2 separate regions of the Homo sapiens genome follow, and region 1 is linked to region 2. The links come from fine-mapping of genetic effects on gene expression. Tissue or cell type: tibial nerve. Region 2 holds a variant in brackets; the other region holds the start of a gene. All regions are shown on one strand. Distances are from middle to middle. Region 1 holds the start of NRXN1 (neurexin 1). Region 2 overlaps NRXN1 (neurexin 1).

The links. PIP is the estimated chance that this variant, and not a neighbour inherited with it, causes the effect.
Region 1: it holds the start of NRXN1, and the variant in region 2 is the best candidate, but not a certain one, in a credible set for the expression of NRXN1 in tibial nerve (GTEx, PIP 0.71).

Annotation. Positions count from the first base shown.
Region 1 is chr2:51,030,190-51,034,597 of GRCh38, reverse strand. It overlaps NRXN1 (neurexin 1), which reads left to right and starts at 2,466. Exons shown (of 23, transcript NM_001330078.2): 1 at 2,466-2,617. It overlaps NRXN1-DT (NRXN1 divergent transcript), which reads right to left and starts at 1,997. Exons shown (of 11, transcript NR_135237.1): 1 at 1,582-1,997.
Region 2 is chr2:50,986,028-50,990,435 of GRCh38, reverse strand. All of the region lies in intron 2 of NRXN1 (neurexin 1), which reads left to right. Among named protein-coding and RNA genes, the nearest start is that of NRXN1, 44 kb to the left of the region's middle. The variant G/T (reference allele first, on the strand shown) is at 2,581.

The DNA.
Region 1 (4,408 bases), 44 kb before region 2:
TCACACATGCAGCATAAGAATGTCAACATTTTTTTTAAATCAAAACACCACAGAAGACATCTCAAGGAAAACCTTGATTCAGTGGAAACACTGTGTAGCCCAATTAAAGATAAAATAAAAATTCACAAAGACGAAATGAAATAAAGTAGGAAATTGTTCAGATCACATGCACTGGTGGTAAATAATGAGTTTTTATGAATCCAGGTAAAAGGCAGTGCTTTGACTCTTAAGAGTGCCTCTAGCACTACCATAATGTTCACTGATGCATGTTCACACCAGATCTTAAGAGCATCATGGAACCAAGTTAGACTTGATTTTTGAAAGTGGGCTGTCCATTCCACTTACTTTTGCAATAAGCTTTAGCTCTATACTAAACACATCGCGGTGTACCTTCTGTACTATTTGTCCTATAACCTAATGGTAGGAAAAATTGAAAAAGGCCCTGAATTAACTAGACTGTTTTTTTGTTTCAAGTTCACTGAATGAATAATTTAGATAAGTAATTTTCTGAGTCTTAGTTTTACATCATTTAAAATTAAATTTTTGTTTTAAGAATCATGTTAACAGCTATTATTTCATTACATTCCCAAAGCAATCTTATGGAATAAGCTGACAATGACTAATACCTCTATTTTATAGTCAAAGAATTCGAGTTTCAGAGAAATTCCTTCCATTGAGTCAAACAGAACACAGAGTGGGTTGTAGTTGATAAATATAGCCAAAATTCCACAATTTGGAATCCACAATTCCAAATATGTTATGTTTATTTATTCATTTCATCTTCACAACATCAAACACATGAAGAGGGAGCTATTATTATATCCATTTTACAGATGAGGTGACTGAGGCAGCATAAGATTAAGTATCTTGCTGAGGTTACAACTAATAAATGGCAGAGATTGAATTGAAGCTCAGACAATCTATTTCCCAAACATGTAACCACTTGACAAAACTGCCTCTCTAAGGGCGATAAACATATTAAAACCTGTGATACCCGCCTTCAGGTTATTTAGACCCTTTTACAAAAGTAGTGAAAGTATAAATCGGCTTATCATAGGAATGAGTTCTAGTTTTTTGGAAGAATATACATATTGTAATTGTAATATATATTATTTTGATGTTCCCAAATTTATCTAGTTCTTAAATTCTTGCTCTATAGGGCCTGGAGGCCAAAAATAGTCTTGCCTTACAGTATTTGAGGTTCAGACTATTAGGTCTGTGGCGTTGCAATAAAAATGTCTGTATCTGCTCCAAAACTAACCCAGGCTAGGAATATACAGGAATAGGAATTTAAATGTCCATAGGGTGCAAACCATAATTTAAAGCCACAGACCCCGAACTCCTCTACCACCTAATCTGTAAGCTCCCTTAGATTTAACCCCTTTCTCACCAAACCCAGCAATGCCTATTGGGCATGCCCAGTTGCATGGTTAGAGCCTCACACCCAGTTTTACTTTCACCAGGTTTTACCAGCTGCAAAAGGGAGGAGGAGACGGAGGGAAGAGTTAAACAGGTAGAAAACTTGGTTCAAGACAGAGCACAGAAGGCTGGAGAATGACGACAGGCTGCAGTAAAAAGCACCTTGTCAGACACAGTTGATCGTCGTCTGCAAGTTGGCATCTTACCCTGGTGGGTTCCTTTTACATCTTTTTGGCACAGCCTAGGCAAGTCATGAAGATTTGTTGTGATTACCCAAGGCAGAGCCACAGTAAGGGGTGGGGCAAGGGACATCGGATCTAGAAGAATGCCAGTGCCTGTGTGAGTCTTGCTTGCCCCTGCATTCCTCGAAAAGCTGCAGCTTCTTTTCAAGGGTTCCGAGCAGGAGACCAAGGTGCACAAGTAAAGCCAGAGCTCATCATAATTATCGACTCCTTGGCCCCTTCTCTTTGACTGCTGGACCCTTTCCTGGCACCCTCTCAGGTATCCCCGCCCAATCACTACCAAACCCCGGAGAAGTGGAATCTCCATACAGCTTTCCATGGGTCTAGCAGGGGCCTGGGCATGCTCAGTAGGCTACGTGGTTCTCTGGTTCGTGTTCGTTCGTTCTCTCTCTCTCTCTCTCTCTCTCTCTCTCTCTCTCTCTCTCTTTCTTTCTTTCCGATGGGGAAGAGAGGGTGGTGACAAGTTAGAAGCGCTTGCGGAAGGTCCCCGCCCCCAGGATCAGGCTCCCCCTGCAAGGGGACGATGCAAAGGTAAAAGCACCTCGCTCCGCAGCATCCAGACCTGGAGGGGCTGCGACCACGGGCCGAGCCCACCCATTCCCCAGCCAAAGGACGGGCCCGCCGCTCTCCATGGTACTGCGGAGAGCTCAGCTCCGCCCTTCTCTTTCAGAAGGACAGCACCCGGCGTCACGTAACCCAGCCTTCTCAGGCTCCACCACCGCCTTTTCCTTCCCAGCTCTTTCCCTCTCCTCCCCCTCCTCCTCCTTCTCCTCCTCCTCCTCCTCCTGCTCCCCTCCGTTGCCTGTTCTCCCCTCCCGCACTCCTGGAGATAGACGCTCAAGCCTGACGCCTCTGAAAAGGCAGCAGCAGTCGCCTTATCCATAGACCTCAGGAAATTCGCTTTGACCGATGCATGCTTCAGGCTCTGGCTCGAGCTGAGGGGAATAACCGGGCAGGTAAAGAAGCTCAATTTGGGTTGGGGGGAGGGGATGGGGCGAGGCAAGCTGAAGAAGGATATCTTTCCCCATTGTAACTGAGCCAGGATCTGCCACAAATACACAGGGAAAGATGGGTGGTGGGAGGGTGGAGGAGTGTAGATCTTGGTTGTTTTGCATGAAGCCTTTTAAATAGATGGCAAGAAGAGATGGTGGAACTGGGGTAGTAACTTAAAGGCTGAATGCAGTGATGTATTAGCAAAAGAAAGAAAATAAGAGACAGGCTAGATATCAAAGCAATAAAATATCTCTCCATATATTTCCTTCCCTACCTCATCAGCCCCACACTGTGCCCATCGTTAATTTGTGCAGTAGACCCCGAGCTCCAAGAAACTGCACTGGTATTAGAGATGGAGCTTAGAGACTGGGCGGGAAAGCCAGAGAGAATTTTGGCTGTGCATTGGTATTGAGAGACTTTGCAAAAGCCAGGGGTGAAATAATAAGCACTTCTAAAATTTCTCTCAGAGATTTCATGTTCTTTATGAAGATATATATATATATTGAAGGGTGCATGGAAAGGTGTAGGTGTGTATGTGTGTGTGATATCAGAAACATTAAAATATGCAACTGCAGCCGATGAGCGTACTGTATTGATCCTCCTAGTGACTTGGGATGAATTTGATTCTAGAAATGAAAGAAAAGATTAATGATGCTGTTAGTCTGCTTTTGAATTAGAGCGCTTCTTCTTTTGGCTGCAGTAAGGATGTTTTTCAGATCCCTTTATTTCATCCTCTAATTTGTGAACTGGCCAGGTCTTTCTGGCACCTAGAGAGAATCCTCTTTTCTCCATATAAATACAGATACTCGCTCACATACAATGAGCTTCCTCCAAGAACTGGGAAAACCAGTTAACCTCCCTGTGATAAGAATGTATATATATCTATATGTACATATATATTGCTCTACGGTTTTTCTCTCTTCCACCATCCCTTAAAATTGTCAAGGTGTGCATTAGTGGAGGAGGGCAGGAGGGACGGGAGAAAAAAGGTTATGTGATCAATGTAACATTAATTAATACAATAATTGGCTCCAACAGAGTTACACACACAAGAAAAAAAAAAAGGTTTTCTAACACATGAGCTTGAGAAAGGGTTCAAAGCACTACTCTTGATCATGATATTCCAGATTTATTTTGCAAATGACTGAAAATTTAGCAGATTCCTGAGTCCACTTAAAATATGAAAGTATACTGAATAATATGCTATTTCAGATGATTTGACGAGCCTCTTTCCTCGGGTTTGATATAGGAGAAGACAAGATATGACTGGTGATTGCTGATGGTGTGGAATGTATCAGCCATAATAAATAAGCAACTGAGATTTTTATTTCCTTTTGCTAGTGGGCAGTGTGTATGTGCGCACACCCACACTGTGTGTGTGTGTGTGTGTGTGTGTGTGTGTGTGTGTTGAAAGAGAGAGAACCAGTCATCAATTTCATCTGGGAGGAACTTGAAGTGGGATACCCTAGCTTGGTGGCTCTCAGCTGACACCTGTGGGGATTGCTCTGTACTGAAGAGAAATGCTCTCAGCTCCCCCCATGGAGAAGCAGCAGCACAATGCGGTGCCATAAATTACTGCTAGTTTCAGCTTGTAAGGGAAAAAAAGTGTTAATTGGGTAGTGAGCTTCTACATCCAGACAATAAATTTGGGGTGTGTGTGTGCATGTGTGTATGGTGTATATATATTGCAGTGTGTGTGTTTGCAAGAGGTGGGGAATATAAGAAATAGTGAGAAAAATAATGCACTTCCTTGA
Region 2 (4,408 bases):
GAAAGTAGATAAGAAAAGTGTAATGAGCTAAAAGCTTTGAAAAACATATGACCATAATATTTCATTGACATTTATAAAGGGAAAAATAATGTGAAGTAGTAATTTAAGTAAGTTTTTACCTTCTTAAAAATTGATTTTTTTAGCACTGGGCTTCAAAGGTGCATTTGAGAAATAAAAGGAAAACTCAAGAGATAGAAGAAAATGTTTGCAAATTGATATTGAATAATACATGCCTATCCTAAATACACAAACACCCTTACAATTCAATGATAAGTTAATGAACACAATGTAAAAAAGATCAAAATATTTTAGCAGACAGTTCCCTACAGAAGATATATGGAAGGCAAAAGATGCTCAACATCATTAGTCATTAGTAAACATAAATTAAAGTCACAATGAGCTACCACAACACCTTTATTAGAATGGCTAATTTTTTAAAAAAATGACAATATCAAGTACTGGCAAGTATGTAGAGCAAGCAACTAAAAATCTCATGCATTGCTGGTGTGAATGAGAAATGATAAAGTTGTTTTGGGAAAACCATTAAACCATTTGACAGGTTCTGATAAAGTCTAACATACTACCAAGCAATGCTACTCCTACATATTAGCAAAGACAAGTGAAAACGTAAGTCCTTTTCTCTACATCCATACCAGAAATCAAAACCTGTACCTAACGTTTAGAGTGGTTTTATTTATAATTGATAAATTTTAGAAACCACCCAAATTCCCATCAATTGCTTAGTGGATAGACAGACTGGGGTACATCCATGCAATTTATGTATTCAACAGTAAGAAGAACAAAATACGAATACAGGCAACAACATGGCTGAATCTCATATGGTTTTCACTAAGGGCAAGAAACCAACTCAGAAGTCTACATGCTATATCATTCTATTATTATGGTATTCTGGAAAACACAAAACTACAGGGACAGAAAACAATTGCTGATTGCTAAATGCCTGGGTTGTAGGGGCAAGGGTGAACAGAGTTGGAAATTATTTATACCTTGATTGTATTGGTGGTTATCTGACTGTAAGTGTTTGTCAAGATTCATATAATTACCCACTTATAAGGGTAATTTTTTGCTGTATGTAAATTATATCTCATAAATAACTTTAACAATTGTATTCTCACTCAAATATTGAATGTAGTCATAGTAATGAGATGAACACATGTATTTCATTCTTATATAAGAACAAAATCTGCTTATTTTACTGTCATTAGTAAATTCTTGGAGACATTAAAACAAAACCTTCATAAATTTCAAAATATTCTGTTACTATGTTGTTTATTTCTCACTGATTATCCCTCCAATTGGGATAAATTTGCCAATTTAGAATATCTAAAAACAGTGAATCAAAGCAAAAGAAGAAAAATATCTCTCAGGACGCAAGTTCCTGGATTTTTTTTAAAAAAGAAAAATAGGGGAAAATATGGGGGGAAAAAGTGGGAAAGGCAGAAAATAAATAAATTGAAAGACAAGGAGAGAAGTTGTCATAAAGCAGAGGTAAAGGCAGGAGTCCGTGATCTCACTTGATCTCCCCAACCACCTAGTAGAGTAGATACTGTTGTTATTCCTATTTTGCATAAAGGAAAACTGAAGTTTTAGGCAGGGTGCATAATTTAGGCACCCTCATACAGCTAATAAACTGGGGAAAAACCATTTGAAGCTTAGGTACAGCAGCTGCTAACGCCTGTGTTCTCTGCATGGAGCATTAGGGTAAATACTCTGCTATATCAATGAGTTATCTCGGTTGTTTTATCTCAGTTATCTCAAGGAATTATATCTCAGTACAACACATGGTTGCATTGATTTAGATACCCTAAGGGTAATAAGAATTTAAACAGGAGAGGGGATTTAGAGCTGTTAACCTCTTCCTTGTTTGGTCTAGGGCTAGCTCACCTTGACAGTCATTTACGGATGGATTGTCTCCTTGGTTAGAACCTTTAGACAGCATTCTCGTTTGATTTTCCAAACAAAATTGGCATTCTTATTTGTCCAAACAAAACTGTCTAGTTTGTCATAGTAGTAAAAGCCATGAAGCCATACTGTTCACTTCATCACAAGTCCCTTTTTGGGGAAAAAATAAATGTAAATGGTTTGCATCTAAAGTCTATATTATTTCAAGGTGAGTACTTTACTAGATGAGTTAATAAATAATGACTAAGACCTTAAAAAGAAAATGATCTGGTTTATGCCACAGGAATAGTCATTGATTTGGCAGGATAAACTCTAAGGAGCGCCGACAAGACTCATGTGGTAAATTAGGCCTGACTTATTTTTGTCAGCTGAACATTGGAGTTATCACTGACCCTTATGGAAGAATCTGTATCTTATTAAAGCACTGTTGCATCAGAACTATCCCAGTTCCCTGAATAGACCTGAGTAGTGTATGAACATTTCAATAGCAGCTATCCGGATTTAGACTTATGGATTTTCTGAATTGAATAGAATATAGTGAACCTGGCCTAAAAAATTAATCCATTTTGATTTTTTGCAAAAGACACTTGCTGAGGATCATTGGAATAACGTCCAAAAAAGTAATTCTGTGTTTCGTAGTGTTCCTTTTCTGCAGCT[G/T]CTACAAACTGGACAGGGACCAATGGGGGTTAGTGGTCTCTGGTGTGAATAGCTCTACTTAGCTATCCATTAATCTCCAAAGAGATGTCCAGATTCCAAGTTATTATTGATTCATGGACAAGCTCTTTCAACCTAACAGACAGTATATGTTCCAAAATAACACAGAACATATGCATCCTTTATTAGAAGCTGCCTTAAGTGTATTCATACAAAGTGAATGTAGAGTGGGAGGTTGTTATACTTTAGTGGTCATGAAGCGCTGATTTGAGGCCTTTTTCTTGGTAAGATTCTGATTTCCTAAATAAACTTTAGACACACACAGATGTAATAACCCATTTATTATTTTGTTCTAAGTTTGTAACAGGATCTTCTAGGAGCATTAATTGTTCAAAATATGTCACCACAAATTCCAATTCCAGAATGTGGGAAAAAGAGCATACATTTCCCAAATCATATGTTAATCTGGCCTGACTCTATGTAATAGCAGAGTGAATATCTAGAAGAAGAAAATGAGGACCATGGCTTCAACATCATCCAGATTTGTGGGGTGCAATCTTTATTTTATTGTTAATACTTTTTTATTTTATATTGAATTATTGTACTAACTTAAATAGAAAATCTTTAAAATTGGATAGTAAGTTGTTTATTTACTAATAAGTAGTCAACATATGAAGAACTATTAAAACCTCAAATTATGACAAATAAAATGAATGTTAAGACTGACAGTGAAAAAAATGAGTTTTTGTTTTTTAAAAGTTTTCTCCTCTTGTTTAATTTGTATAACTGAATGCCTTTAGTTGTAGAAGTCACATAAGTGCATTTTTATTGTAAAAGATGAATAGCATATAGAAATGTATTGTGAAATGGAAAAGAGTCCTCCATTCCTACTGCTTTCTCATTATCCTCTACAAAGTAAAGCACTATTAAGATTTCAGGGTGCTGTTTTTCAATTTTACTTTCTGTACATTTACGCATATATACATATATATCTATGTCAATTGTGTTTATTTTAAACAAATAGAATTATCTAATAAGCATTTTTTCTGTGAGTTGCTTTTTTCCATTCCTATGTTTTGGATATTTGATAGCACTATCTCGATTTTTTGGAAAAAAAATATGAATATTTGGCAATTATATTTATAAAAAAGCTTATATGCTAATAAAAAGTTTAAAAAAGACCTAGATATTTTTACAGATATGTAGTTTGCATAAGGGCAAAATCGATATATGAGTGGAAGGAGAAATGGAAAATATAAATGAAAAACTTTTTAAAATTTATTAGATATTTTTCTCACTATGTTAATGTTTAGTATTCACAATGTAACAACACATGAAATATTCAGTGTTTTCAAAAAAAAATCTGCGCAGTATTTTCTGGCATAGAAGATGATGTATTTACTGATTCCTTGTTGGTAAATATTTAGGTTGTTTCAATGTTTTTTACTATAAAAAATAATGTTGCAGTGGATATTCTGTATATGTTTGTCCATATTTAACTCACACATGGATACATTTATTCATCTACGAATATTTTTTATTTATAAAAATGAAATTCCCAAGAGCAAACTACTGCCAATTTACGTTACAAGAGTCTCTCCTAATTTATATTTGCATTACCAGTATATAAAGCTTCTGTTTTAATTCTCCTCACCACGACTTAATATTACTATGTTTTGCTTGCCCCAGTCTCATGGAGAGAGAATTATGTTGCTGTTTTAATTTCCATTATGGAAATGAAAGTTAACTGTATGTTAAGTTAACTTTAATTATATTAATCTATATTAATCTTTATTAACTCTATTAATACAGAGTTACTGGGGAGATGGGA